Linked DNA regions of Homo sapiens. The protein of the gene in region 1 purifies or fractionates together with the protein of each later gene. This does not show direct contact. Each region holds a gene or a part of one and is shown in the gene's direction. Other genes may lie near its edges.

Region 1 (5,626 bases):
GTGAGGGGAAACTAAACCAGTATCTTTTTGTTTTATACCTTATGTTGCTGGGAACATAGCTAGTCCTTCCAAACCATCAAATTCCTATGACCAGGTTTGGATTGAATTTATCTCCCAAATGTGCATAATAGCTCCTGTCCAGCTAAAGGGCAGTCAGGGCTTCTTGAAGTGCATTTGTGGGTATTGATAAGACAGTAGTGGTTTGTTTATTTGAAGTAGCAGCAGGATTTCATATGACCAAATCAAAGAATGGCTGTGATACTGGTTTTATAGCAAAAGTATTTGATATGTTTGTTTCTCTTTGAGAAATATTTAACTCTTAAGAATCATGATTTAACTCAGCTGGTTTTTAAGATAATAAAGTACTGTAGATTTTTTTCAGTATAGTTACATCTAAAATAATTACTTAATTTTTTTTCTTTAAGTGTCTAAAAGAAGACGTTCAGCGACAACAAGAAAGAGAAAAGGAACTTCAACATAGATATGCTGATTTGCTGCTGGAGAAAGAGACTTTAAAGTCAAAATTCTGAAGTACAGTTTATATTCTGTCACAGGATTAATTAATTGCCGGTTTTCATACTCTAGAAGGCTGAAACTGATGTTTATCTTCATTGACAAATTTACCCACCATCTGTGGTTTTTCAGTTGTTTATTTTAAATGATATCGATCTTACACATTCTGTGTATAAAGACCTTAACTCCACAGGACGGACATTTTAGAGTTTAAATTATTAAGGCTATCATTCTTTTAGTAATGTCATATTTGCAAACTTTTTTAGTTTTGGCCTTTAATTTAAAAAGCCTAATTTTAAAGTGCTGCCTGTGAGTAACTCTTGAATAAAAACAAAATATAAAAAATTGAGAATGTAGCCTTTTGTTTGAAGTAATTAGATACTTAAGAGTGCCTGCAAACCAGCAGCTATGTACTCTGTGTCATATTTAATGAGTAACTCTTGGGTAATCAAAATGGTGATGCAGTATCTTAAACACTTAAGAGGCAGTTCTTTGTGGCTTTGTTAGTTTCAGCAAAGAGTGGTCATTTCTGTATACACTGACAAGTTAGATTAACTTTTTAGTACCTCAAATTTTTTTTTTGTTAATATCACTTTAAAGAAGGTCTCTTGTCTGCCAGCTACTTAAATAATTTATGGGTCAGGGCTTAAAAGATTTAACTTCCTTGCCCCATTATTTTCTTATAAGTATTTTTTGACAAAGGCATTTTAAAAGTTAATTTCAAGAAGGCCATCAAACTTAAAGCTCTATGTTTAGCCTAAGAAGTCAGTTACATCAGTGTAGAATTTGGGGAATGGATAGAGGTGGAGATATTTAATTTTATATAATTCATATAAATTGATTTAGTTACAGTATCAGTTGGCTACAAGCTCATTATAGACTAGCAATGTTTTGACATCACCAAAAACGTTTGCCCAGTCTTAGAATACTAGGGACTATAGGAAGGGAAGGGATTCATTCATTCATTCGATATTGAATGTATACCCTGTGCCAGAGTCTTAGAGAGAGAACAACAAACAAAATAGGCCTAGTTCTTGTTTAGTAGAGCTTATAGTCTTTTGAGAATGACAGACAATTAAAATCCAAATGTTTATTTGGTGATTCTTATGTGTCAGACACTTAAGTGTTGGGAGATAAGCAGTTATTAAGACAGAGTTCTTGCTCTCATGGAGGTGACATTAGTGGGGAGGAGATACTAAGTATGTCCAGGGAAAGTATCAGACCATGAGTTTTAGATTCTGTGGAGGAAATTAAAGTAGGGTGATTATGAGATAGTGAATGAGTGGCTATTTTAGACTGGACGATCAAAGAGACCTCTTGGAAGGCAGCTATGCTCACCACTATACCACTGCACTGTGCCGCACCGTACCACTATAAGCTGCACGGCCAAAGAGACCTCTTAAAGAAGTAACATTTAAGATAACATGTGATTGACATTTTAGAATGGGCTATCCTTGTGAGATTCAAGGAAAGAACATCCTAGGTGGAGTGAATAGCAAACATAAAGCCTCTTTTGTATGTTTGAGGAACAAAAAGGACAATGCAGCTAGAGTGTCAAGAATGGCATTTCTGTATATAAGACCTCGTTGTATAGAGCCACATAAATAAGGCTATAATAAGGAATTTGGATCTTACTTTAAATATGATAAGAATCGATGAGAAGATCTAAGCAAAGGAATGACATGATCAGATTTGGTTTTAGAAACATCACTATCTCCTTAGTGTGTAAAATCTCACCAGGCTGGAGATAGGGAAGCCAGTCCAATTAGGAGCCTGATGCAGTGATCCAGACAAAAAAATAATAGTGATTCTAACTAGAGTCCAGGTAATAGTAGTGGAGATATGTGGAGAGACATGATAGGTATATACTTAATAGTCTTATCAGACGATAAATTGATATTTTCCTGGTGTGTAGTCACTTAATTCAAATACTTTTTTCAGTAAGTTCTGGGTTTTCTAGGAAAAACTTCAGTATCATCAGTGAATAATGATAGTGTTTCTTCTGATAGTTTTATTTCACTTTTATTGCATGTTTTGTTATCTGAAATGTTTAGGACAATGTTAACAATAATGATGTTAGACATTTTTTTTTCTTATTTTAATGGGAATGTCCATAGTTTTAAGTTTGCTGTTGGGAGTTAGATAGTCTTTATCTGAAAGACAGTGTCTCTCTTTTAGTTTTTAAAGAGTTTGAATTAGAAATGGCTCTGGAACTTTAAACAGTATACCATTTGGGCATCTATTAAAGCATTCATATAATTGTTCTCATTTGATGTTTTGATGAGGTATATTAATAGATTTTCCCACATTAAATCATCTTTGCACTCCTGGAATCAGGTAGATTAATTTTTAAAAGAAATTTTAAAGGATTTATAGTTTATTTGCACTTTTTGTAGACTTGAATTATATGGATTTAAAAGTTGATCTAATATTAATAAAGGCTCACTTTGTTTTCAAAATTTGAAGTAATTCACATACTTATAGCCTAAAAAAATCGGCAGGAATTACAAAATTTCAAAACTGGCACATTGTAAACTGCATATGCATTTGCCAGGTAGTGGTGCCACTTGAAATGGTGAACAGACACACTGTTATCCTTTGTCAGTATCCTGTAAAGCCCAGGATTCTTTACCAGCACCATACAGCGATTTTGGTGACTATTTTAACATTCACACTGAGGCCAGGGGTGGTGAGTCATGCCTGTAATCCTAGCACTTTGGGAGGCCAAGGTGGGAGGATCATTTGAGCTCAGGAGTTCAAGATTAGCCTGGGTAACATAGTGAGACCCTGTCTCTATTAAAAAATAATAATAAAAATAACATTCACATTGGTATTGTTCACTAAGGTATTGGTTGTTAAGGCATTCATTAAGGTATTGTTAAAACTTGTGTTAAGCATGTTAAAGTCTCAGTAACTTTGGGATAGAAATAAAATGTGATAAAAAGCTGAAAGAAACCACCACAAGGGAGAGTCCTTTTTGAAATATTAGAGACATAATGCTGTCTAATAAAAAACGACATCAAAGAAAAACTACACTACAGTGACTGCAGACTTAATGTTGGCCAACCATGCATCCTCCCTAGAAATGCATTTGAATTTGATTTACTAATCTTTTATTTAGGAAATTTACATTTTTACATTAGTGAGATTGGTCTTTTGGGCTATTGTACTTTTTTTTTTTTTTTTTTGAGATGGAGTCTTGCTCTCTCACCCAGGCTGGAGTGCAGTAGTGCAATCTTGGCCCACTGCAACCTCTGCCTCCTGGGCTCGAGTGATTCTCTGCCTCAGCCTTCCAAGTAGCTGGGACTACAGGCATGTGCCACCGCACCTGGCTAATTTTTGTGTTTTTAGTAGAGATGGGGTTTTGCTATGTTGGCCAGGCTGGTCTTGAATTCCTGACCTCAGGTGATCCACCTACCTCGGCCTCCCAAAGTGCTAGAATTACAGGTGTGAGCCACCATGCCCAGCCTGGTTATTGTATTTTGATATTGGGATTTTGCTAGCTCTCTAAAGTAAATAGGATAACTGTATATCTTTTTCTGTGCATTAAGCAGTTATAACATGGGAATGATTTGTTCATGAAAGGTTGAAAGTCTGTACTTACAGAACTTTTGAGTTCACAGTGCTTTCTGGAAATAATTTCTTTATAACTGTCAGTTTCTTTTGTGACTATTATGTTACCTATTTTTAAATTTAAGCAACTTTAAATTAAAAAAATTGTTTTTAAAATATATTCTTCCTTTTATGTTTATTTAGTAAATTTAGGTAATGTATACTTTTTAAGAAATATTTTTATTTTGTTCAAATTTAAACATCTGTTGTTAGCAGAAAATTCTAATAGCAATTTCTTTTCTATTAACTTTGCCATTTCTAAGTTATAGGAAATTTACCTTCTCTTAATTCTACCACTTTTTACTTGACTAGACTTGTTAAGGGTATACATTTTCTGTTCAGAAAACTAGTGTTTTTATTGGCTTATCTATTGTGATTTTGTTTTAAAATATGTTAATTTCTCAATTTAGGCTTATTATTTTGTTTTCTGTAGTTTTTTGACTTTTTGAGACTGATGCTTATTTTTTGCTTGTATACAAATGAATGTGTTGAAGACTTTTGAACTGTCCTTTGAGTTCAAATATGTTCACATCCCAGCCATTTTGATATGTAGTAGTCTTGTTTTCTAAGTAGTATATCATTGTGTTTTAAATTTCTGGTTCAATAATTAAGTTTTTCAAAATATCTGTATGGTTGGCTTAAATTTTTTTTTTTTTTTTTTTTGCTAGTTGTGGGATTTTTACCTTGTGGGAAAAAAATGTGGTTTATGTAGTTTCTGTTTATTGAGGTTTGGGGGCCTAGCATCTTTAAAAAGTGTTCTATGGATGTTATAAATGAAGATTTATTTAGTTTATATAGGACAGAGGTGAATGTGTATTCATTCAACCAATTTATTCAAATTTAATGTTCTTATTGTTGTTATAGATACCCTAGAATAGTGTTTTCTTAAAGTCTCTGATTATAGTTGTTTCTCTCAATTTCATTTGTTTCTCTAGAGCTTTTGCTTTGTATATTTTGATAGTGTTATTTAGTATAGAATACTTGTGTCTGTTACATACAATTCATAAGGAAGACTTCATGGCCTAAAGCTATCCTTTTTGTTTTGTTTATGCCTTTTGCCTGGAATTTTACTTTCTTTATTAGAATTTCTCTTCTTTCTTTGCTTATATTTGCATGATAAATTGTCTATCCTTTTATTTTCAACTTTCATATATAATTTTTAGTTGTCTCTTAAACAGCATATCTTGTTGAATTTTGTATTTCAAACCATTTGGAGAGTCTTTGGCTTTTAATAGGGTCTGTTTTGTTTTTCATGCTAATTAATGACTTTAGTCTTCTGTAATCATGTCTTACACTTTCTCACTGATGTCTGTAAATGGACTGTAATTTCTTGGTTTTAATTTTCTTAGTGATTTAGAAAATATACATCGTCTTTTAAATCTTACAAATAATTATGGTATCATTCAGGGTTTAGGATCTGTTCAGGAGAAAGAAAGCAAACCAGTAATTTGAACAAGGAAGACTCAATATGAAGATTACTGACCAGTAGTAGGGAGTTAAC
Region 2 (8,406 bases), on another chromosome or scaffold:
GTCGTGATATGTTGAGGCTGTTCTGATGGGTTCTAAGAATCTGGCCTGTGGAGATGCAAGAGTGGAGAACTGTCGTCCACAATGTTTGAACGCCGTTTGGGCACTGAGACTAAGCAGCTCCAAGTGTAAACTCCTGTTGTGCCGATTCCGCTTAACTAGCCCAAACGACTTAGGACAGTGTGAGGCACCTTGTAAATGTTCTTATAAATGTTAGCTGCCTATATCAGCCATTGTTATTGTCCTTGTCCTTGTTGTCATCAGATTCTAAGCTTCATGGCACTGGGGACTTGAGACTCGTTCAGCGTTTTCTCTCTAGTATCTTAAACAGCGGCAAGTCATGCGTGACCCGACATAGGTGCTAGGTAATACTTCCTGAATAAATCAAAGCCTGGAGTCAGATACTATGAAATACAGCTAATGCTTTAAGGGGCAACTGTTTAGTTATATTAATACCTCTTGTGTTTTTTTCCTCCATTTTATAGGGTATAAAATTCCCGTCATTGAAAATCTAGGTGCTACGTTAGACCAGTTTGATGCTATTGATTTTTCTGACAATGAGATCAGGAAACTGGATGGTTTTCCTTTGTTGAGAAGACTGAAAACATTGTTAGTGAACAACAACAGAATATGGTACGTGTCTGTAGGGGAAAGTAATTTTTTCCCCTAGAGTAAATGTTGCAGTGTTTCCTGAAGAAGTTGTAGCACGTGCTACTGGTTAAACCTACATGTTTCTTTTTCTTTTTCTTTTTCTTTTTTATTTATATTTTGAAAAAATATTTTTTCCATAATGGAAGCCACATTCAATACATGTTTTTTCTTAAAATGAGAAATGAACTTCACTTTTCCTATAGAGATCCAGAGATTAACCTGGCATTAGTCTAGTCTTACTTGTATCTGTTCAGAAATCATGTATTTTTATTTTCATGGTTAAGTTTCTAAATAAAAACATGTTGCTTTGTATACATTTTGGCTTCTAAAACAATTATCAAAGGGGTCATAGTAAAAGGATATATAAAGGTAACAATTATACTTTTGACTGAGCGTCTCTGCTTTTTTTTTTTTTTAACTGCAACTAATTTCTAGACTGTTACTTATTGAAATTGAGATCTTTTTTGACCCTGCCTTCATCAGCTCTGTGTAAACTTTATTGGAAAAAAAGCACTTGGTGTATAGATAATGTCTTTAAAGGTACTGGGTGGTGAGTGGGATTTCCTTCAGATAGAAATATTTCTCATAGGTTAACCATTCCCCTATAGTATAGTTGTTGTGTCTTGTACCTGAGCTGGGAATCCAGAATTATTTGTATTTCTGTGCTGCCTGCACAAAAAATCATGAAGTGAGTTAAGTAGTTTGTGCCACCCAGGAGTTGCACCTTTTCTCAGGTTCCACTAGATGGTATGACAGTGGAATTAGCCCCAGGCAGTGTCTAAAATCCCACTTCTGTTGCTGACCCTGTGGCCTCAGAAAAGGGTTCTTTTTGCTTTGTTTCCTCTTTATCAGGGTGTTGGAAGAAGGATCTCTAAGTGTCTCTCTGTGATCCTCTGAGCAAGGAGGTAGATAAAATTGTTAGCTTATTTAATTTTCACTTTTACTAAGACTCTATTTTTATTTTAGCCGTATAGGTGAGGGACTTGATCAGGCTCTGCCCTGTCTGACAGAACTCATTCTCACCAATAATAGTCTCGTGGAACTGGTAAGTTGCACAGAAGGAAAATGTATTTGGTGGGTGGGGTTAAAGGTACTATGTGCTTCCTACAGAAAATTTACAAAATCTAGAAAATGATCTCAGTATCCTCTTTCTTGTCTTTTTCTTAATTCAGGATCTGGGCCTTTTGGGTTCTGCAGCCGTATGTTGCAAATATTTTCCTACTTTTACTTGACTTTTGACTTAGGATGTCTTGTTAGAGAAGTTCCTAATTTAGGTGCAGTCCAATGAATCAATCTTCTTCTTTATTGTAGCCCTTTTGATGTTTAAATTTCCCCTATTCCAGGGTTATAAACTCCTATGTTGTTTTCTACAATTGCAGTGTTCAATATAGTACCAGTAACTACAGGTGGCTACTTATAATTGAGATGTGCTAGAACTATAAAATACACACTGGATTTCAAAGACTTAAGTGCAAAAAAAAAAAAAAGTAAACTATCTCAGTAATTTTTTTATATCGATGTTGAAATGATAACGTTTTGGATAATAAGTTAAATGGCATATTATTAAAATTAGTTTCACCTATTTTAACATGGCTACTAGAAAATTTTAGATTACATATCTGATATGCATTAAATCTTGCTGAACAGTTCCAGTCTAGAAACCTTGTTTTACTCTTCACGTTAGATGAACAATCCACTTGGAACTGTTTTCATGCTTTTTAAATTTCTGTTCTGTGTATCCAATTTTTAACATAATTGAGATACTGTGTATTGTTTTGTAACCTAAATTCTTCACTTAAACACTGGATGCTTAAATTTATATTGTAGGCCAGGTGCCATAGCTCATGCCTGTAATCCAAGCACTTTGGGAAGCCAAGGTGGGAGGATCACTTGAGCCCAGGAGTTCTAGACCAGCCTGGGCAACATAGTGAGACCTTGTCTCTCTCTATAAGTAATTTTTTTAGAAAAGCCGGGTGCAGTGGCTCATGCCTGTAATCCCAGCACTTTGGGAGGCCGAGGCGGGTGGATCACGAGGTCAGGAGTTCAAGACCAGCCTGGGCAATATGGTGAAACCCCGTCTCTACTAAAAATACAAAAATTAGCCGGGCGTGGTGGTGGGTTCCTGTAATCCCAGCTTCTTGGGAGGCTGAGACAGGAGGATTGCTTGAACCCAGGAGGCAGAGGTTGCAATGAGCTGAGATCATGCCACTGCACTCCAGCCTGGGCAAAGAAAGAGACTCCGTCTCAAAAAAAAAAAAAAAAAAAATGCCAAAAGTGGTAGCGTGCATCTGTGGTCCCAGGTATTCCAGTGGCTAAAGTGGGAGGATCACTTGAGCCCTAGCCATCAGTCGAGGCTGCAGTGAGACATGATCATGTCTCTGTACTCCAGTCTGGGCAATAGTGCAAGACCTCATCTCAAAAAAAAAAAAAAATCGTATAACTTAATTTTGTGACTTAACCTTCCTCCCGTATTTTCCTGATTGTTGAGAATGAACTGTGTTCCTTTCCTTGTGGACAAGGTCCATAGCATCCTTCAGATTCTCAAGGAGATGCTTGACTACAAACATAAGACAGCACTGGTCCATGGCCATGTCCTTTCTGAAGTGTGTGAAGTATTCAACCCGAAATACATATTTATAGGCAATGTGTCTCATGATAGGTGCTGTTAGAGAAATTAGAGTTGTATTTAAAGCTCTTTGCAAAGATGAAGACTACTGGGCTTATCAGTTATTGAGAGAGGTATGTTAGAATCTCACAGCATGGTAGTGGATTTGACTATCCCTGAAGTTCTGTCGATTTTAGTTTTGTATATTTTGAAGTTGCCTTATTTGATACATACAAATTTTAAATTATTCATATCTTTCTGGTGAACGGAAACTTTTTATTATGTTGTGACCCTCGATCTCTATTAATGCTGTTTACCTTGAGGTTTCTTTTACCTCGAAACAATCTTTGTTTTGGTTAGTTATATGCATGATAAATCGTTTTCCATCCAAAATTTACTTTCAGCTTGTCTGTACCTCTTGTAGTTTAGATTTCTCTCTTAAAAACTGTATGGTTGAATTTTTTTTTTTTTTTTTTGAGATGGAGTGGCTGGAGTGCAGTGGCGAGATCTCGGCTCACTGCAACCTCTGCCTCCTGGGTTCAAGTGATTCTCCTGCTGCCTCAGCCTCCCGAGTAGCTGGGATTACAGGTGGGCGCCATCACATCTGGCTAATTTTTGTATTTTTTTTTTTTTTAGTAGAGACGAAGTTTCACCATGTTGGTCAGGCTGGTCTCGAACTCCTGACCTTGTGATCCACCCGCCTTGGCCTCCCAAAGTGCTGGGATTATAGGCGTGAGTCACCGCGCCCAGCTCTGGTTGGAATTTTTTACAATCCAGTCTGAAAGCTCTTTTAAGTGAATTATTTATATTTAGTCTGTTTACATTTAATGTAATTACTGGTGTGTTCCAGTTTGTCTTCTCTCTGTTCTGGGGCTTCCTGTCTGTCCCACCCGTTCTTCAATCCGTTTTCTCTCCTTTATTGTAGATGCTCTCCTTCTGTCATTCCATTTTTTCTTCTGATGGTTTAGAAATTACTCTCTTTCAATCTTGAGTTAGCATCGTAGGAATTAAAACACACATATTTATAAAAGTTTAAAATTAAATGTTAAGATCACTGTACCATGACCTTCAACATTTAATTTTAAACTTTGACACCTTTACCCTGCTAAACAATACAGTACAGTGACCTTCAACATTTCAGCAGCCTTCGGGTTGTTACATATTTATTCTTTTTTGAAGCCCATCACTACATCGCCATTACGTTTTACACTGTGTATGTAACAAATGTTACCACTTTGTTCTTTATTCCTTTTTGGATCATCTTCAGTGGGGGTAAAACAGTATCAAGCTCTAGAGCTCCCTCTGGTGGTTTTTGTGACATATTTGAAGATGGCAGCTTGCTTTTTGAGAATTTCTGGCTCTGCTCTCCCTGTTTTTATCTGTACTTTTTTTTCTCATTGTGCCTCTTGCACACACACACCCCTTCCCCACCATCTACCCAATTTGCGCCTGTTCCAGCAGTTTCTCTTCAGGGCAGGGCCGTGTTGGGACATGATTTCTATTAAGAGTGAGGGCCCAAATTGCTCTTGCCCCTGCAGCCCTTATCACAGACCCCTGTAGTCATTATTGGAACATGCTGGTCTTGGGCCTGCTTTTCTCAGTCACTGGAGTTCTCCAGTTTGTAAGACGGCTCCTCGCCTCCCCTCTGCTTCTTCCTGTACAAAGGCCGTCACCCTGCAAGCCTTGTTGCTCTCAACATGGGTTGTCTCTACTTGTTCCTATTTTAGAGTTACTGCAGAATGCCTTGCCATCTAGCTTGGTTGTAGCTGGTAACCATAGGTTTTTGTTTTTTTGCTATCCTTATTGCACTATGTTTTATGGAACAATTGGAGAAGATTAAAAATTCACCCTGCCCACTGGGCGTGGTGGCTCACGCCTGTAATCCCAGCTCTTTGGGAGGCCGAGGCAGGCAGATCACGAGGTCAGGAGATCGAGACCATCGTGGCTAATACAGTGAAACCCCGTCTCTACTAAAAATGCAAAAAAAATTAGCCGGGCATGGTGGTGGGCGCCTGTAGTCCCAGCTACTTGGGAGGCTGAGGCAGGAGAATGGCATGAATTCGGGAGGCGGAGCTTGCAGTGAGCCAAGATCACGCCACTGTACTCCAGCCTGGGCAACAGAGCGAGACTCCGTCTCAAAAAAAAAAAAAAAAAAAATCACCCTGCCTTCTTTCCATTAATTCGATCATTTTTAAGCTATACTATTCCTTGTCCCTGCAAATTTTATTTAAAGAGATTTTCAGGGGCAGCTAGGATAAATGTACCTTCTTTCAAAAGACAGTATACCTTTGTTGTTCTTAGACGCTGAAGCTGGCGCTAGCAGGAAAGCCCACTTACACCAAGATTCTGGCTTGCAGTTCCCAGTGTGAATAGGTTGCTCCAGAGTCCCATCAGCTTTGCCATTGTTTTCTTTTCCAAATCATGGCTCAGCAGCCACTTTGAGATTCCTGTAGGAAAGCAATTTCTTATCTCCTGCTATTGAGACAGAAGCTGTTAATGCCAAGATTTTAAGAAGCTCCCATGTATTCATCGGTAGAAATTATTTAAACATTTGTGATGTGCTAGTATTGGGCTTGTTGCTAGAGAGTAAAAATTCAGTAAATAATGAAAAGACAACTTGCTTCAAAAGCACTCTCCATTTCAGAATCTCAAAATAGCGTGTGGTATTCGCGTTCTTACCTGTGGCTATTGCTTGACAGGGTGATCTGGACCCTCTGGCATCTCTCAAATCGCTGACTTACCTAAGGTATGGGAATTACATATTGTGACAAAATGAAGCCCTTTAAAATAACATTACTTTTACCAGCCTTGACCTTAATGTAATCAGATAATTAAAAAATGTGGCACATATGCACCATGGAATACTATGCAGCCATAAAAAAGGATGAGTTCATGTCCTCTGTAGGGACATGGATGAAGCTGGAAACCATCATTCTCAGCAAACTATCGCAAGGACAAAAAACCAAACACCCCATGTTCTCACTCGTAGGTGAGAATTGAACAATGAGAACACTTGGACACAGGAAGGGGAACATCACACACCGGGGCCTGTTGTGGGGTGGGGAAAGGGGGGAGGGAAAGCATTAGGAGATATACCTAATGTAAATGACAAGTTAATGGGTGCAGCCCACCAACATGGCACATGTATACATATGTAACAAACCTGCAAGTTGTGCACATGTACCCTAGAACTTAAAAGTATAATTTAAAAAAAAAGTGCCTTTTACAAAGAAAGATTGAATATATTTCCTTAATGTTAAATTGTTACAATGTTGCAATGTGAAGAATGTGAATGTTCCCTTGATTTATAGGTTCCTTAGACTATTCAAACAGACCTCTTGAGTGCTGTGCCATGAACAAGTTTGCCATTGTGTCATTCCTTTTCTTGTAGTATCCTAAGAAATCCGGTAACCAATAAGAAGCATTACAGATTGTATGTGATTTATAAAGTTCCGCAAGTCAGAGTACTGGATTTCCAGAAAGTGAAACTAAAAGTAAGTAGTAATCTGTTGCTTGTGAGCCATTATAGAGTTGTGTGTTTTTCTTTATATTTTTGTTACTGATTATTAAAATTGTCTAAATGAGTAAATTTTACCATTAGTTTGTAATAAAAGTGGGAGGGAAAATGTTACATCACATTTTTTTCTAATAGCAGAGTTTATGATAGAACTTTTAAGTTGGAGCTCTCTTATGTAATGCTGGCTATTCCGAAGTTCGCAAAGTGCTGAGGCCACGGTGAGCAGTCTTAACAGTGGATTGTCTGCCTAGATACGTTCCCAGCGGAGAACTTAATGTAACCTACTTTCGTGCAGCTCCGTGTGTTAGGATGATTTTTCCCTTTATTAGGAATTCATTATTTTATTATTCATTTAATTGCCTTCTTAGTTCCCTGGGATCCCCTCCTTGGAGCTAGGAGAATGAACTTTCTTCAGGGAGCTCTACCAAAGAAAGAAGACCACTGTGTCTTCTCTTAATTTGAAATTGCTTTTTGGTATTTTCACCAGCCCGGAGTACTGTAGGAGAGTTCGCTTCCATGTCTTCTGAGGAATGCATCTAAATGCATGTGGTATTCCTATTTCCATTAACTCTGTGTGTGGTGTCGCTGTAGGAGCGTCAGGAAGCAGAGAAAATGTTCAAGGGCAAACGGGGTGCACAGCTTGCAAAGGATATTGCCAGGAGAAGCAAAACGTAAGACACGGATATCCAACTTAACTCTACTTCACCTTCAGAAACATGATCTGATCTGTCTGGCAGTTCGTCTCCTACAAAATTAACCAAAAACTCTGACATATTAATGTGGTATTAAATTTGAGTGCTTATAGTCCATGTACATCAATGGTCCACACATCACAAGAAATTTCTACCAGCTTAGCAGAGCAAATATTTCAGTAGTCAGTCTTCATGTGATACCATGTACATCCTATTTTCTATATAGGAAGATGAACTGGATGGTGTTTCTGAAGGAGAGAGTTCTTGTATCAGTTTGTTAACAAAGATAAGATACTACACTGGTTGAATTACTTTCAAAAGCTTTTGAAAGTAAAAGAGAAGCAACTTCTGTTGGTCTAGGTCTAACAGTTATGTTCTTCCCCCTCTTAAGTTTTAATCCAGGTGCTGGTTTGCCAACTGACAAAAAGAAAGGTGGGCCATCTCCAGGGGATGTAGAAGCAATCAAGGTAATCATGTGTTAGGATTCTTGGACTGGAATGAGCTAAGATGGGTTCAGAACACAAAGCTGGATAATAAACATGTTCCGAACATTGCAGATTTCATTTTCCCACAGTTATTAGCATACAGCAATATTTCTGTTTAAGGAAAAACTAGCATAAAGTTATTATTTGATCAGACTTGAAATTACACAAGCTAATTAATGTGGAGGCAGCTTTGTCTTTCTCATTTTCCAAGGTGCATTTATCACTTCGAACAGTTACTTACCTTGGTATGCTGTCTCAGTGTTTGCCTTAATTTTTACTTTCGAAGATTTGCTGTCTGGCAAATCCTTTTGACTGATCAGTAGGGACCCTCGTTTTATAATATTGCCTCCTTAAATTATTCAGTAACATAATTGCAAATAGTTACTTCACTTAGCTACGATTTTAGAACATGTGGAGTGATTATTTATAAGAAGGCCTGCATCTCTTCACCAATTTTAG
Region 3 (8,406 bases), on another chromosome or scaffold:
AGTGGAGCTGATTGGGCGGTTCTTTGAGGCTCTCAGATGGTGCTTCACCGGTTCTCCCGGGGTTTCCCTTTTGGTGCTGGTAGGGCAGTCCCTGAGACCTGGCACGGCTCCTGGGTTGGCGGAGCTGCTCCCATAAGATGACCACAATACAGTGTTTTGAGCAAACGAAGCTCTCATTGTTTTTACCTGTCCAGCATCAGTGTGTGGGAGAGGGTTCTTGCCATAGGGGAAGCTCTGCCCGCGTGTCACTGCCTGTAGTCTTTGTCTCTGCGGAGGACGGGCCAGCTTCTGTACGTGTCGCCTTCTGCTTCAGTCCTTTCCTCTGCTACCTGTATCTACAGGGAATTTCCTTGTCTATATCCCAGGCACCCAGCGGGCATCATTGCTTTCTCTGCGTGGGTTCCTGTCTGCCTGCTTGCCTGTTTCAGAGCCTTAGCAGCAGAAAGGGCTCTTGGGGCTCACAGCCTGTCCATCTTATAAGCGAGGAGCTGTGCCCAGTGCCGTGCCTGTGTGCCCGCTGCTCTACACTGCTGGCCTGTCCTGCCGATTGTTCCTCCCAATTTCAGTTTTTGATTTTGGGGTTTTTGGCCTTCAAGGGGACAATTATATTGTCATTAATGGTTCTAGCCAGACCTGAGTGTTCTGCCTGATCCACATTCGAGAGTATGGCCTCGTGCTTAACTCACTGATGTCAGAGTGTTTAAATTCTGGTGTCACCATTTCCTAGCTGTTTGACCTTGGTAATTGTGATCTCTCTATACCTTAGTTTCCTTACCCATTATGTCAGCCCCCAGCAGTGTTTTTCCGAAGCAGTAGTGAGGATTAAGAACAAACAAAACAATTTAGTACAGATTCCGGTTGTAGGAAGCATCTCAATATTTGTTGCTGTTTTTTTCCCTGCTGGGTGCATATTTTTCTGAGTGTTGGTGGTTTTGGAATTGTGATGCTTTTCCAGACATTCACATTGCATCGCAAAAACGTGAGACAAAACACTGTGGGTGAGGCTGAAGTTTAACATCCTCCCTCAGTGCCCTTTCCTCCTCTTGTCCCCAGGGATGATCACTCCAGGAGATGCGTGTTAACATATATAAGCACCTTAACGTGTGCATCTGTTTTGTGTGTGTGCTTCATGGCTAGCTGAGAAATCTGGGTGTCTTTGAATTAAGGAAATGGTGTGGCGGTGCTCATGAACCCCCCCGCCCCCCCATGCTCATGGTTTATCCTCCATCTTGAAGGGCCGGTCTCTCTTCAGGGGTTGAAGGGTCTGGTGAGAGCAGAGGTTTCTGTGGTTTTGCCAGTGAGGCTCCGTTCCTAGTGGCTACCTCAGGCAAATAGAGGGTTGAGGGAGCCTGCTGGAGGCTGGCAGAGATACCCGCCCCTACTCACGCCTTTACAGTCTCTTCAGTACTTGGCTTTGAAGGGAGTGAGGCTGAGAGATTCAAGTGGTTTGGGATTCAAGTCTGGATGGGGCAAGCTCCTCCCCTGACCTGCTGAAGGAGAGGAGGGCCTCTTTCCCCTTCAGTCTGCAGATTCTCCGAGGCCCTTCTCTTCCCCTGGGAAGGGTGCTTGCTTCTGCATTATTCACCGGCTTGGGAAGGGATGGGTTGAGTTTCCCTGCTTCCTGGGGATATCAGATCCTGCCTGGCACCTGACCCCTAGTCCTGATGGTGGGGCTGTGGGTGCCAGCTAGTTGCAGAGGTCTTTCCTGAGGGGTCGCTGGGTCCCTTCAGGAAAACATCATTGGGTCTCTTGATTCCCCAGCCTCTAGCCCTGCCCCTCTCAGGGACGACCCTGGGGTCAGGCCCCTCAGCCCTCGAGGGGGACCAGGAGCCAGCCTCCTCTGTCTTCTCTGGCTCCCCAGCTCCTCCTGAGCATCCTCAGGTATCTTACACCCCGGGGGCATTTCCAGGCCCCGTCCCCCTGGTCCCCTCATGGTCCCTGGACTCGCTTGTGGACCCAGGAGGCCTGTTAATTCCCTTCCTCCATTGAATCCCTTCCCTTTGGGGGTGGCCTCCCTGGGGCTTGGGACATAGCCACCAGCGCGCAGGGTGGGCTGGGCCCGCATCCTTACTCCGCTTATCCCGTGCCCCTCCTCTCACCCTTGCCCAGAGCGGGACAAGGAGAACCGGCATCGGAAGCGCAGCCACAGCCGCTCTCGGAGCCGGGACCGCAAACGCCGGAGCCGGAGCCGCGACCGGCGCAACCGGGACCAGCGGAGCGCCTCCCGGGACAGGCGACGACGCAGGTACTAGGGCTCAGGGATCCCCTGGGCCAGCCTGGGAGTCGGGGGGTCGGTGTTGGCCGGCCTGTGGGTGGCCTGTGTGTGTCTGTGTCTGGGTCCGGGCCCTGTGTGGCTCGTTCGTTCTTTGTGTGGATCTGGGGGAGGGATCTACTGCTTGGTCTGTCTTGGATTCCGATTTTTTCCCCCGTTTCTGGGGTTTCTTTCATTTTCTGTCTTGGTGGTTGCTGGTGGGTTGCTGGGGGCAATAGGCTCTTTATCTGGAGCCTGGGAATTGATTCTGTGTTTTCCTTCACAAGGGGTTGTTCTCTGTCTCTGACTCTGAGGGCCTGTTCCTTCTTTTCGACTCTCTGTGGCTCTCTGTGGGACTCTCTTCGAGGGGGTTGGTCTCTGCCTCCAGTTTCTTTCTTCCCTGCCTCCCAGGAGAAGGGAGCTCTTGGGACCGAGGCAGTATCCACAGCCTGGGCTGACTTTTTGGCCCAGGGGTGTCGGTTTCCACCGCCTCTTCCCTTCTAGGCTCCCCTTTCTGTTCTCTGCCTCCTTAGGTGAGGAAGGGCAGGATAGGCGGAAGTCCTCCTGCCTCCTCCCGGCTCAGTTTCTCCAGCTAGAGACTGGTCCTTCCTGGCCCCTGGCCCCTTTCTCCTTTCCTCACTTCCTCTTTCCTGGGGGTGGGAGTGTTTGGGGGGAAATGGCAGGGCCGAGGGTGGCCTGCTTGCTGCTTGTTGACCTCGGCCCTGCTCCCACCCTGGGGCTCAGTGCCCTTGGGGGGGTGTGGCATGTGGGGAAGACGAGGGTCCCCAGTCACCCCTCCCCATACCTTTCCCTCCCACCCCCCAGCAAACCTTTGACCAGAGGCGCTAAAGAGGAGCACGGTGGACTGATGTGAGCTTCTCTTCCTGCCCCTTCCTCCCTGATGTCCACTCCCTTCACCTTCCTCACGCCCGTGCACCCTGTCCCGCCCATTTCCAGCCCTGGCCCAAGCACTGGGAAGAGTCCACTTACCTTGAAACCAGCACCCCTTTCCCAGGCCCTGCCCCAGACCCTCTCCTTCCCTGGAGAGAGTGGAGCTTACATGGTTGCGGGGAGGGTGAAAGGGTGCCTGGGAGGGGGCTCGCAGGCCCACTGTTGGTCAGACTGAGGTTGCCCTGCCCCGCTCTCCCCTCCCACCTCCCCCAGTCGTTCCCCCCGCCACGAGAAGAAGAAGAAGGTCCGTAAATACTGGGACGTGCCACCCCCAGGCTTTGAGCACATCACCCCAATGCAGTACAAGGCCATGCAAGGTAGGCCCCTGGCCAGGCTGCTCCCAGAGCGGGAGGGTACAGGGGTTGGGATTCTCCGTCAGTCATTCCCCTGCGTGTGTGCTTGGAGGGGGTCAAAGACACAGGTAGAGGGTTGCACACCCCTGGGGGTTCTGGTCTCTGCGCTTTTGAAGCCTCCCTAGAGGAGGAAATGACCAGAGACACCCGTGGTTGACAGGGGAATGAGGCCTCCATCTGGACGCCATTAGGAAGTGAGGCTTCTGAGGAGCAGCAGTTACTGGGTGGGGGCCCCGAGGGTGGAAAGAGGGTTCTGGAAGGTGCTAAGACCGAGAGCCTGTAGGAGCTTTCTGCTGAGGAGGGGAACTCCCAGTGTGTGGTGAGGGGTGGTCACTGAGCATTCCCCTGATGGGGTTTTATCCGGCTTTTATTCCCTTTGAAGCTGCGGGTCAGATTCCAGCCACTGCTCTTCTCCCCACCATGACCCCTGACGGTCTGGCTGTGACCCCAACGCCGGTGCCCGTGGTCGGGAGCCAGATGACCAGACAAGCCCGGCGCCTCTACGTGGGCAACATCCCCTTTGGCATCACTGAGGTACTGCCCTCCCCTGCCCCCTACCCTCTCCCTTGTCCCTCTACCCCGTTCCTCCCCTTCCCTCCATTCCCTTTCCCCAACCTGCACGGGTCAGACTCTGCTCCTGCAAGACCCCCCGGCCCCCTCCCAGACGGACCGATGGAGTTGAGCCAGCCAGGGGCCGGGCTGGGGGTGGCCCTCCCTCCCTCCTCTTCCCCTCTCCCGTCTCCCCTCCCCCCAACCTCCTCCAGCAACCCAGGGATCAAGCACACACATAATGTACCCACGTGTTGTACCTACGTGTCGGAGAGAGACAGAGAGGGAGACTTGGACACACACACACACACACACACACACACACACACACACACACAGACGCACGCTGCCCCTCAGTTTTTTTCTGACACGCCTCTCGTTCTCTGCCGCCTGTCCCCTATCCTCTCCCCCACGTCCCTCCCATGGTCGCTGTTCTTTTATTTTTGATCGCCCCTGACCTCCCCCTTCCCCACCACTCCTTTTCCCTCTCCCCTCTCCCCAACCCCTTCCTGTGGCACCCCCTGAGAATCCCGAGATCAAAGAGTTGTTTCCATTTCTCTTTAAAGTGAAATATTGTGGGGCTGAGATCCCTCGTAGCAACAAAAAGTTTGCTACCATCGTCGAAGGCAAGTAAGGTCCATTCTGACTTTCTCAACCTGCACTTTGCTACATTTGATAAACCAGCCCCCGGACTCCAGGGCCAGATTCCTCCACATCACTCTTTTCTCCTCCCCTCCCGTCCCTGCCCCTCCTCCCTACACTCCTCCTCTCCTGCCCCTGCACTCTTGACTTCCTCCTCCTCGCTCGTCTCTGTCCTGCTCTCCCTTTCTGTCCTTTGCTCGTCTCTGCCCCTGCCTGCCACTTCCTTTCTACTTTCCTGCCACTTTTCTGTCTGTCTCCACTGGGTGGCCCTTCCTGTGTGCTCTGTCTCTTCATCTCTTGTGTTTCGTGTTTTTCTTCATTTTGTGTTGTCATCATGCCCTCTGCCTTTTCTTGAACAATCTTCTCCTTTCCCCTGATTTTTTGGGGCCCCTGTGGCTGTCCCCCAACGCCTGTCCATCGCCTGCCCTTGGCCGTCTCTTGCTACTGCTTCCTCCCCATTTTCTCTCTTGCTTCTGTTCTTACTATTGACTTCTACACCCCCACCCATATTCCACTGTTCCTTCCCCCCCTCCTCCCTCCCCTCATCCCTCTCCCCTTACCCCCAAACCCCTCTGTGTCTCCCTCTCTCACCCTTCCCCTCCTCTCTCCACCTCCCTTCCCCCGCCCCCCCCCTTGTCTCCTATTCCCTCTGCAGGAGGCCATGATGGATTTCTTCAACGCCCAGATGCGCCTGGGGGGGCTGACCCAGGCCCCTGGCAACCCAGTGTTGGCTGTGCAGATTAACCAGGACAAGAATTTTGCCTTTTTGGAGGTGAGCTGGGGGAGTGAGTGAGGTCCAGGAAACGTGTGTGATGTGAGGGCCCAGCCCTTAGGCTGATGTTGTGTGGAGCTGCCTTGTGCTGTTTCCACCAGGCCCTCTGCAGCCTCTTCTCCACCCGGTCGCTGAAGTGAGCCCTGTTATAGCATTACAGATCTGATCCTACTTTCTGCCTTCCATTTGCTTTCTGTGTGACCTGAGAGGCCTGTTTGGCCTCTGTAGACCTCTTTGGCCTTTTCCAGACCATTCCGGCCCAGTCCTCTCTGCACTCTGGCCACACTGACCTTCCCAGAACCTACCATGCTCCTGCCTGCTTGGCTAGAGTTCTTTACACCAGCTAACTGATGTTCCTAACTAGTCTTCTGTTACCCCAGCTAACTGATGTTCCTAACTAGTCTTCTGTGTCTGTGTTTCTCAACTGTCGGGAAAAGGCCTTGGTTTTTGATTTTCGACTCTTGGTGGACTGATAACTCTCATGAAGTATTGTGAAGGTGTGGGCAGTGTTAGCTTACTGCAGAGATTTCTGAGCACTCCCTCTCACTGTCTGAGCACTCCCTCTCACTCTGTCCCTCTCACTCTGTCTTTGCCTCACTGCAGTCCACTTGCAGTTGCATTGCTCCGGAGATGGGCTGAAATGTCCCCCTCACCAGAAAGACTCCAGTACTGTCATCTCCCCGTTCAACTAACCTTTCCCGTAACATCCCTTTTCAGCACTTTGTCCCTCTTCCGTGTCATCACAGCCTGCAATTGTGTGTTTGCCTCTGTGTTTGTGTTGGGTGCCTGGTGTTTTTAATGGTCGAGTGTGAGCTCCTGGCAGCAGGGACATGCGTGTCTGTTGTACTCCCAGTGCCCAGCCTGGGGCCTGGCATGTTGTATTTGTTCACATGAGTGAAAGGAAAGAGGAAATCCCAATCCTGGAACACTAGGGGCTGTACTAGTCCCTGACCCCCATCCCTCACCACTCCTTTCTCTTTCATTCAGTTCCGCTCAGTGGACGAGACTACCCAGGCTATGGCCTTTGATGGCATCATCTTCCAGGGCCAGTCACTAAAGATCCGCAGGCCTCACGACTACCAGCCGCTTCCTGGCATGTCAGAGAACCCCTCCGTCTATGTGCCTGGTGAGTGGGGGATCCATTAAGGGCCCCTTTCTCCCCCAGTCCTGTTCCCATGGCCTGTCCATCCCTTCAGCCCAGCTGGAGTGGCTTAGGAAGTTGTGTAAGTACTGTGGAAGATAGGTGCCTTTTCCCTGCTTCCCCTAAGTCTCTGTGAGTGGGGTGCTCTCCTGCTGGTAGAGAAGGTGCCTAGGGCCGGGAGAATGAGCTGTCACCTGCTGAGGACACACAGCTTGTACGTGGCAGAGCCAGGATCAGACCAAAGGTGCTGGGGAAGCGAGGGGCTTGTGGCCTGGACCTCGTGCCTGCGTTGCGGCTGTGGGACCTTGGAGGGCTCAGTCTGTGCCCGTCGGGGCTGCTGTGTGTCGACGGTTGGCAGCAAAGCTGCTGCTGTGGGGTCTGGCACCTGGGTATTCACTTGTTTTTGTCTCCTAGTGTTTGCCTTGAATCTTGTGTTCTGGGCCATTCCCCATAGCTGTGTTGAACATCATCTGTAATTGGTAGGTAACATAGCAGACCAGGGGTTGGCGACCATGTCACTGTGTGTGAAAGCAGCCGGACGGTGTCTGCGTGCGTGGGCCTGGCTGTGTGCCGGCACACCTCGACACGCGTGGCTGCTGAGGTTGGGCTTTCCTGTGCTTCTCACAGGCCACAGAATGGTCTCCCTTTAGAAAGCTTGCAGGATGTGCAAAACCAGGTGATGGGCCCTGTCAGCCCACAGGCTATAGTTGGCTGACCCTTGTAGCTGATGAATGGGATTTGAGGGAGGGCTTGTCTGATGCCCTGTCAGGGTGCGGCTGTGTCTCAGGCCTGGGACATGGAGGAGGTGGGGTTCTGCTGGCGGGTACTCACTGTTCGAGGAGCCCTTTAGGAACTGAGTCAGCTCTTCAGGGCAGGCGATGTGGAGCCCCAGACGGAGGCACATCTGTGTCAGGCAGGACTTGGGCTAGGTCCCTCACTGGCCTCCAGTGCTTTTCTTTTTGTTGTTGTTGTTGTTTTGAGACAGTCTCGCTCTGTCACCCAGGCTGGAATGCAGTGGCACGATCTCGGCTTACTGCATCCTCCGCCTCTAGGGTTCAAGCAATTCTCCTGCTTCAGCCTCCCGAGCAGCTGGGATTACAGGCACCTGCCACCATGTCTGGCTAATTTTTGTATTTTTAGTAGAGGGTGGGTTTCACCATGTTGGTCAGGTTGGTCTCCGACGCCTGACCTCAAGTGATCCGCTCACCTCAGTCTCCCAGAGTGTTGGGATTACAGGCATGAGCCACTGCGCTCAGCCCAGTGCTTTTCCATCATGGGTTTTGGTAAATTCAGCTAACCTTTTGGAGCCTGTAATATATGTTGACATGCTCCCAATCGACATGGACTTTTTACGTATGGGTGCGTTTCCCCGATCAAGCTGCAGAATGTCTTCCCCACGTCTCTTCCTGGTGAATCCACTGCGTTTTCATTCATTTTAAGTCCCATGAGTGGCCCGCCACTTGCTGGTGCTTAGTGTGTGTCAGGCGCTGTCCTAAGTGCCCTCCATGCACGGCAGTTCTACGACACAGGGATTGGCGCTGTCCTAAGTGCCCTCCATGGACGGCAGTTCTACGACACAGGGATTGGCGCTGTCCTAAGTGCCCTCCATGCACGGCAGTTCTACGACACAGGGATTGGCGCTGTCCTAAGTGCCCTCCATGGACGGCAGTTCTACGACACAGGGATTGGCGCTGTCCTAAGTGCCCTCCATGGACGGCAGTTCTACGACACAGGGATTGGCGCTGTC
Region 4 (8,406 bases), on another chromosome or scaffold:
CCTGCCTGGCCTCCCAAAGTGCTGGGATTACAGGCATGAACCACCATGCCCAGCCCTGAGTAGTATGTTTTTAAGGGAAAAACTATTGAGTCTTAAACTTGTTTAATGGTACCATGCAAATTTGCAAACATAAAGGTAGATGAAGTCCTTGTGTCTATAAGAGCTCCCAACTTTCCCAACTTTTTTTCTTTTTTTTTTTGAGACGGGGTCTCACTCTGTCGCTCAGCCTGGAGTGCAGTGGTGCTATCTCGGCTCACTGCAAACTCTGCCTCCCGGGTTCACACCATTCTCCTGCCTCAGCCTCCCGAGTAGCTGGGACTACAGGCACCCGCTACAACGCCTGGCTGATTTTTTTTGTATTAGTAGAGACGGGGTTTCACCATGTTAGCCAGGATGGTCTCTATCTCCTGACCTTGTGATCCGCCCGCCTCGGCCTCTCAAAGTGCTGGGATTACGGGTGTGAGCCACCGCACCCGGCCAAGAGCTCCCAACTTTAAAACAAATATATAAAGTACATTACACATCCTGTGGAATACTTACGAGGCAGTATATAAGTACAAATTTTGTTTTCTTTACACTCAACTCTATGCTACTTTGATATGATACTATCTTTATTGGTGGAGATTCTTTTGCTATTACATGCAGTCAGTTGTCCAACTATTACTCTCTGTTTGAACTACTGTGGAACCCTTGATGTTACTTAAACCCACCTCTCAGCCTGGGCAGCATAGTAAGACTCTTATCTCTCCAAGAAATAAAAAATTAACTGGGTGTGGTGGTGTGCGCCTGTATGTAGTCTCAGCTACTCAGGAGGCTGACATGGGAGGATCACTTGAGCTTGGTAGGTGGAGACTGCAGTGAGCCGTGATTGTGCCACTGCACTCAACCTGGGCGACAGAGTGAGACCCTGTGTCAAAAAACAAATGAAAATCCACCTCTCATCTTTTTTCATTAATCTTGCCAGCATCAGCTAGGGTAATATTATTTGGTACACATGTAACTGTACATACAAACTGATCTCAAGATTGAAATCATGTGACGGTATCTGGTTATAATTACATAGGTGGGGCCTGGTGCGGTGGCTCACGCCTGTAATCCCAGCACTTTGGGAGGCCAAGGTGGGTGGATCACGAGGTCAGGAGTTCGAGACCAGCCTGACCAACGTGGAGAAACCCTGTTTCTACTAAAAATACAAAAATTAGCCCGGCGTGGTGGCAGGCACCTGTAACCCCAGCTACTCAGGAGGCTGAGGCTGGAGAATCACTTGAACCCGGGAGGCAGAGGTTGCTGTGAGCCAAGATCATGCCCCGGCACTCCAGCCTGGGTGACAGAGCGAGACTCTGTCTCAAAAAAAAAAAAAAAAAAAAAATTACATAGGTGATCTAAAGCATGTTTATATTAATTAAACACACACAATTAAACAAAACATCAACAGGACTATTTTCTTAGAACACACGAATTCCTTCTCCCCTAAATATGTGTCTCTAAGCCCCACTTTGAGAAGTACTAATGTAATTAGAGCTGAAAGCCTTCGATTACTGATCTAGATAGAGAAACCTCAGTGATTTCCCCCAGTCACAGAGCTATTAATGGCATATCAAAGATTCATATCGATAATATTTTGTTTTTTTAAGCTGGGACTTTTGTCAGTGCTTCGGATTGAAACTTTACATTGTTTTTAATCATAAACATTTGCTAGAAAGTAGGTATCTTTTCCTATAAGTAGAGGTAGTGTCTTCTAACTTTTCATTAATTATAGTGCATAGAACTAAAACATTTTTCGTTTAAAGTTTTTTATTTTATGGAAATTTTCTAATTATTTCTGTGTGGGTGTGTGAAATAAAATTTTTTTGCTTTTTTAAGACCCCTGGGCATACTCCTTCCTTAAGATGGGATGAGACACCAGGTCGTGCAAAGGGAAGCGAGACTCCTGGAGCAACCCCAGGCTCAAAAATATGGGATCCTACACCTAGCCACACACCAGCGGGAGCTGCTACTCCTGGACGAGGTGATACACCAGGCCATGCGACACCAGGCCATGGAGGCGCAACTTCCAGTGCTCGTAAAAACAGATGGGATGAAACCCCCAAAACAGAGAGAGGTACTTCTAGTGGAGTATGGGTGTGTGGGTGAAATGTTGAGTGATATGTTTACAGACTGAAATGTGTTCTGTTTATTCCTGGGTGGACACGTATAAATAACCAGCTGCTTTTGGGGGACAGATTAAGAATAGAACAGTTCATATGCCTAATTTTTTCCACTTCTTGAAGTGGTTTAAGATTTAAGGAAGAACCTTAGGTAAAAGTAAAGTTAGTAGGCTGTAACCTTTGATTTTGTGTGTTTCTTTAGAGATAGGGTCTTGCTCACTGTAGCCTTGACATCCTAGGCTCAAGTGATCTTCCCACCTCAGCCTTCTTAGTAGCTGAGACTATAGGGGCATGCCACCATGCCTGGCTAATTTTTTTTTTTTGAGATGGAGTTTTGCTCTTGTTGTCCAGACTGGAATGCAATGGCGCGATCTCAGCTCACTGCAACCTCCACCTCCCGGATTCAGGCGATTCTCCTGCCTCAGCCTTCCTGAGTAGCTGGGATTACAGGCATGCGCCACCAAGCCCGGCTAATTTTGTATTTTTAGTAGAGACGGGGTTTCTCTATGCTGGTCAGGCGGGTCTCGAACTCCCGACCTCAGATGATCTGCCCCCCTCGGCCTTCTGAAATGCTGGGATTACAGGCATGAGCCACCGCTTCCGGCCCCTGGCTAATTTTTAAATTTTTTGTAGAGACAATGTCTTGCTTCATTGCCCAGCCTGGTGTTGAACTCCTGGTTTCAAGTGATCTGCCAAAGTGTTGGAATTACAGGCATGAACCACTGTGCCTGACTTACCCTTTGTTTTTTATTATGGAAAAATGTACATAACATCAAATTTACTTTTTTTGTTGTTGTTGTTGAGATGGAGTCTTGCTCTGTCACCCAAGCTAGAGTGCAGTGGTGCGCTCTCGGCTGACTGCAACCTCTGCCTCCCCAGTTCAAGTGATTCTTTTGCTTCAGCCTCCTGAGTAGCTGGGATTACAAGCGCCCACCACCACACCTGGCTACTTTTTGTATTTTTAGTAGAGACAGAGTTTCATCATGTTGATCAGGCTGGTCTCAAACAACTTTAAATGGGTCACCATTTTAGGAATATTCTATTTTAGAACTTGATAGTTTTGAGTATAACTGTTTGAGAATAAAGAATATTATTTTAACAGTGATTAAAATTGTGGTTTTACTCACTCTTTCTTTTTAAAGATACTCCTGGGCATGGAAGTGGATGGGCTGAGACTCCTCGAACAGATCGAGGTGGAGATTCTATTGGTGAAACACCGACTCCTGGAGCCAGTAAAAGAAAATCACGGTGGGATGAAACACCAGCTAGTCAGATGGGTGGAAGCACTCCAGTTCTGACCCCTGGAAAGACACCAATTGGCACACCAGCCATGAACATGGCTACCCCTACTCCAGGTAGAACTGTCTCATTGGACATAATTGTTTTTTTCTCCATAAATTATTTAATTTTTTCCTTTGTGGTATTCTGTGTACTATTAATGTCAACTTCTAGTAAGAATAAGGAGATATACAAATTTAAGTCTTGGTTTGCGTTTATAATATAAAAGCAAATAATAGGATTGATCTTAACTGTCTTTTATCTCAATGTATGTAATAATACAGTCTTGTACTATAGATTATATAAAAATTTGCTTTTCTTGGTAGGTCACATAATGAGTATGACTCCTGAACAGCTTCAGGCTTGGCGGTGGGAAAGAGAAATTGATGAGAGAAATCGCCCACTTTCTGATGAGGAATTAGATGCTATGTTCCCAGAAGGATATAAGGTAGTACATCAAATTTGAATGAGGTGGTATTTAGGATATACATTTATTTTAAATAGTGAAAAAAATTGATTAAGCTTGCATTGGCTTTGCCCAAATTTACTATTGTCATTCCATTCTCTTAGCTATTTCCAGGTATATTTCAGTTCCATATAGAGATGAAAAGAAATGAACAACATGAAACTTTTATTACTTTTTGAAAGACATCTCAAAGACTTGTGTATGGGTCTATCGGTTATACTTTGAGAACTGCTGGTGCTTCAGTTTTCTAGCAGTCCCAGGAATAAGCTCGTTGAGATTGTGGTTATTTTACTTGGTGCTTCACCAAGATTTTATATACTTAAGTTTATGGATTGTCAGTGGACACAAAGAATTTTTTTTTTTTTTTTTTTTTAAAAGATGGAGTCTCACTCTGTTGCCCAGGCTGAAGTGCAGTGGCGTGATTTCGGCTCATTGCAACCTCCGCCTCCCAGGTTTAAGCGATTCTCTTGCCTGAGTTTCCCAGGTACCTGGGATTACAGGTGTCCACCACCATGCCCGGCTCATCTTTGTATTTCTAGTAGAGACAGGGTTTCGCCATGCTGGCCAGGCTGATCTTGAACTCCTGACCTCAAGTGATCCGTCCCTCTCAGCCTCCCAAAGTGCTGGGATTACAGGCGTGAGTTACCGTGCCTGGCCTTTTTATCATATCAACCTAAAATTTATTTTGAACTATAAAATTTTCTAGGTACCTGGTACTCAGGGAGTATTTGTTAGTCTGAAGATAGTCTGTGGTCGTATAGCTGACATCATAACCAGGGGGAACCAGATAACTTTGTAAGTCATCTGATGGCCTTTACAGAGCTTTTTCTGTTAATGACTATTGATTTTTAACAGTTCATGAGTATGTTTTTTGTTGTTTTGTTTTGTTTTAGAGACAGGGTCTCACTGTGTTGCCCGTACTGGAGAGCAGTGGCGCTGACATAGCTCACTGCAGCCTTGGACTCCTGGGCTCAAGTGATCCTCCTGCCTCAGCCTCCTGAGTAGCTGGGGCTACAGGCATGCACTACCATACCTGGCTAATTTTTTTATTTTTTGTAGATACGGGAGTCTCACTGTGTTGCCAGGCTGGTCTCAAACTCCTAGGCTCAAAGTACCCACATTGGCCTCCCACACTGCTGGGGATTATAGGCATGAGCCACTGTGTCCAGCCTTGTTTTGTTTTTGATCCCCTGTTATTTGTGTTAGAGTATTTGTTTCAAGTTTGCATGAAGTTTTGCCTTAAAGCTTTTTGTAGCCTCCACATAATGCTGTGGGTATAGATAGAACTGTGGGTATAGATAGACAGAACTTACTGTTGACTGCCTGCATGTCTTTCTCAGTCGTAGTCATTGATTTCCTTAGTGTCACTAGGAGGAAAAGTCTCCCTTAGTGAATCCTACTAATAAGCAACGTCCTTACTAGTGAATATAAAAATATAGTAGACCTTTAAATCCTTAATGGCAAGTGATGCCTGTGGACTTGACATTGATTTCTCTAGGCCTCACATCTTTAGAGTATCCACTTTATCCAAAATGCTTAGTGGTCTGTGCTGGTGCAGACGTTAACTAGCAACAAAAAATATCTGTGCAAAGTACAGATAGCATCAATATAAATTTAACATAATTTAATCTTTAATAGACAAAACAATTTTAGGCTCACTGGAGAAGACGTGTATAGGTTTATTGACCTCTCCAAGAAGTTGTATTTTTTTTCTTTTACTATATATTAAATTATATAAAATAGAGATGGGGTCTTGCCATGTTGCCAAGGCTGGTCTCAAACTCCTGGGCTCAAGCGTTCCTCCCATCTCAGCCTCCCAAAGTGCTGTAATCCTGGCCTGTCCAGAAGTTGTTTTTTTTTTTTGAAGTCTGTTACCAGCTTTAAAAAAAAAAAAAAAAATTTCTTTGTGATTTTCAGCCTGCATTTTTTGAAATTTTACTCGTTTTGCAAAAGGTTTGATCAGGTGGTGTGTATTTTATAGGGCTTTGGCAAACATTTTGGTTTTAGTTTTTATGCATTTAACTAATTTTTGTAGAGTTTTACACTTAAAAGATTTTGTAGTGCAAGAATTTATGTGACATTTTAATACTAAAATATAATTTTTTATGTTTTATGCCCCATATGAGCTTATTTCCATTTTATATAAATCTTATGAAACATTATTTGCTCGACTACAGCATTTTTTGGAATTGCTGACTCAGATTTTATAATTTTCAAATTTTTAATAATTTGACATTTTGACCCACAACATGTTTGAATGTGATTAGTATTTTCTAAGCTCTTCTCTTGTGTTTCCTCAGTTCCCTACACCACGGATATAATCAGTTAGTGGATGAGAAGTATATATTTTAAGTTTCTAATTAAGATAGAAAAGCAAGATAGATGTTGTCTCCAAGCAAATAAAAACCTTATTAGCTAATAAACTAAAATATTTTAAGTGCAAATATTGTTCATTATGCTGTTTTTTAAGTTAAGAAAATCCTAAACTGTCTTATAACTTTTATTAGGTACTTCCTCCTCCAGCTGGTTATGTTCCTATTCGAACTCCAGCTCGAAAGCTGACAGCTACTCCAACACCTTTGGGTGGTATGACTGGTTTCCACATGCAAACTGAAGATCGAACTATGAAAAGTGTTAATGACCAGCCATCTGGAAATCTTCCATTTTTAAAACCTGATGATATTCAATACTTTGATAAACTATTGGTAAGTGATACTAGCAGAAATAAACTATTAATTGTGTTCCAGAATTATAAATCATAACATTTCAACTTCCCTTAACATTTTTTTCTTTTTACTATAGGTTGATGTTGATGAATCAACACTTAGTCCAGAAGAGCAAAAAGAGAGAAAAATAATGAAGTTGCTTTTAAAAATTAAGAATGGAACACCACCAATGAGAAAGGTAAGTCCCAGTTTGTTAAATTGTCATGTTTGTTGCTTATTTATTTAATTAAAAAAAATTTGTAGTTTTTGTAGAGACAGGGTTTTGCCATGTTGCCCAGGCTGGTCTCAAGTGATCCTCCTGCTTTGGCCTACCTCCCAAAGTGCTGGGATTACAGGTGTGAGGCTCTGCACCTGGCCATGTTTATATTTTTAAAAATGTTTTTAATTTTTTCACCAGGAAATGTAGACCACAAAATAGTAGTGAACTATTGGTATAGCCCGCTGTGGAGTGTGGTCTTTCCTTTACTCTCCCAAATAGCCCAAATTGGTAAAGGTTATTTAGAAAGCCTTCCCCATAAAAAATTAACTTTTGGTAGTGTTATATTTTTGTGTTTAGGAATTTATAATTACTGTCTTCATCTTTATCAAGGACATAGCATGAGGGGAAAAAATTTATGTAGTGTGAAGGATTTAACTTTTTTGCTTGTTTTTATTATTAATATTATATATATATTTTTGAGACAGGGTCTTGCTCTCTTGCCCAGGCTGGAGTGCAGTGGTGTAGTCTTGGCTCACTGCAACCTCCGCCTCTTGGGTTCAAGCAATTGTGCCTCAGCCTTCCAAGTAGCTGGGACTACAGGCGTGCACCACCACGCCCTGCTAATTTCTGTATTTTTAGTAGAAACGGGGTTTCACCATGTTGGCCAAGCTGGTCTTGAACTCCTGGCCTCAAATGATTAACCTGCCTCGGTCTCCCAAAGTGCTGGGATTACAGGTGTGAACCACCATGCCCAGCCGTTTGTTTTTATTATTATTTAAATACTCCTGGGCTCAAGAGATCCTCCTGCCTCAGTCTCCGAAAGTGTTGGGATTACAGGTGTGAGCCACCGTGCCCAGCTGGAGTTAGCACAAAATTCTTTGGTTAAAAAAGCTAATAAAAATGCTGAAAAATGAGATTCTCCTTTTTGTTCTTAAGGCCTTTAAAATATGCTTAAAGCTTGAAGATAATTAGTGAAATTATGTGAGGGATTATGTTAACACTATATGTGCCTTGGAAATGGAAGATACTTCAGGGAAATGAAGGCATTTAGTACATACCTCTGTGGTTCGTTCTATTAAATTACTCTTTTGAGTTAACATAAAATTTCTATCACAGGAATTGAAATTCCAGAGTAATTTGGATGGAAATGAACTCATGCTGTCTATGTAAAATGTGTGTAAAAGTAAACACTAAAATATTAAAGTATGGAAAATCTTCTTTGAGTAATTTGCTCATTCAAAATGTTTGATTATAAAGAAACCACACCTATTACTCTGCTCTTTTTCCCAGGCTGCATTGCGTCAGATTACTGATAAAGCTCGTGAATTTGGAGCTGGTCCTTTGTTTAATCAGATTCTTCCTCTGCTGATGTCTCCTACACTTGAGGATCAAGAGCGTCATTTACTTGTGAAAGTTATTGATAGGATACTGTACAAACTTGATGACTTAGTTCGTCCATATGTGCATAAGGTTTGTTCTCCTTAATAGTGTTTCTGATAGTTTAAAGTTTTAACTTTTTCAGTTAATCAATGTTAAATTTACATATTCTCCTAGACCTTTTCCTTTGCACAAGTACACACCATACATGTA

What was found.
Region 2: the proteins of CDC5L (region 1) and SNRPA1 purify together in Homo sapiens (affinity purification with mass spectrometry; 6 studies listed by BioGRID and IntAct, with this or other methods). This does not show direct contact.
Region 3: the proteins of CDC5L (region 1) and U2AF2 purify together in Homo sapiens (affinity purification with mass spectrometry; 5 studies listed by BioGRID and IntAct, with this or other methods). This does not show direct contact.
Region 4: the proteins of CDC5L (region 1) and SF3B1 purify together in Homo sapiens (affinity purification with mass spectrometry; 5 studies listed by BioGRID and IntAct, with this or other methods). This does not show direct contact.

What each region holds. Positions count from the first base shown.
Region 1 is NC_000006.12:44,446,182-44,451,807, forward strand, and holds the end of CDC5L (cell division cycle 5-like protein), read left to right. Parts: intron 1-425; coding exon 426-530; 3' UTR 531-4,244; downstream 4,245-5,626.
Region 2 is NC_000015.10:101,285,249-101,293,654, reverse strand, and holds part of SNRPA1 (U2 small nuclear ribonucleoprotein A'), read left to right. Parts: intron 1-482; coding exon 483-630; intron 631-1,614; coding exon 1,615-1,693; intron 1,694-5,952; coding exon 5,953-5,999; intron 6,000-6,644; coding exon 6,645-6,747; intron 6,748-7,361; coding exon 7,362-7,441; intron 7,442-7,853; coding exon 7,854-7,929; intron 7,930-8,406. UniProt on the Homo sapiens protein: Involved in pre-mRNA splicing as component of the spliceosome. Associated with sn-RNP U2, where it contributes to the binding of stem loop IV of U2 snRNA.
Region 3 is NC_000019.10:55,657,101-55,665,506, forward strand, and holds part of U2AF2 (splicing factor U2AF 65 kDa subunit), read left to right. Parts: intron 1-1,761; exon of another isoform or gene 1,762-1,881; intron 1,882-2,109; coding exon 2,110-2,245; intron 2,246-3,076; coding exon 3,077-3,121; intron 3,122-3,415; coding exon 3,416-3,519; intron 3,520-3,937; coding exon 3,938-4,089; intron 4,090-4,670; exon of another isoform or gene 4,671-4,730; intron 4,731-5,401; coding exon 5,402-5,518; intron 5,519-6,505; coding exon 6,506-6,644; intron 6,645-8,406. UniProt on the Homo sapiens protein: Plays a role in pre-mRNA splicing and 3'-end processing. By recruiting PRPF19 and the PRP19C/Prp19 complex/NTC/Nineteen complex to the RNA polymerase II C-terminal domain (CTD), and thereby pre-mRNA, may couple transcription to splicing.
Region 4 is NC_000002.12:197,403,465-197,411,870, reverse strand, and holds part of SF3B1 (splicing factor 3B subunit 1), read left to right. Parts: intron 1-1,863; coding exon 1,864-2,101; intron 2,102-3,289; coding exon 3,290-3,502; intron 3,503-3,751; coding exon 3,752-3,873; intron 3,874-6,398; coding exon 6,399-6,596; intron 6,597-6,693; coding exon 6,694-6,795; intron 6,796-7,016; exon of another isoform or gene 7,017-7,153; intron 7,154-8,106; coding exon 8,107-8,286; intron 8,287-8,406. UniProt on the Homo sapiens protein: Component of the 17S U2 SnRNP complex of the spliceosome, a large ribonucleoprotein complex that removes introns from transcribed pre-mRNAs.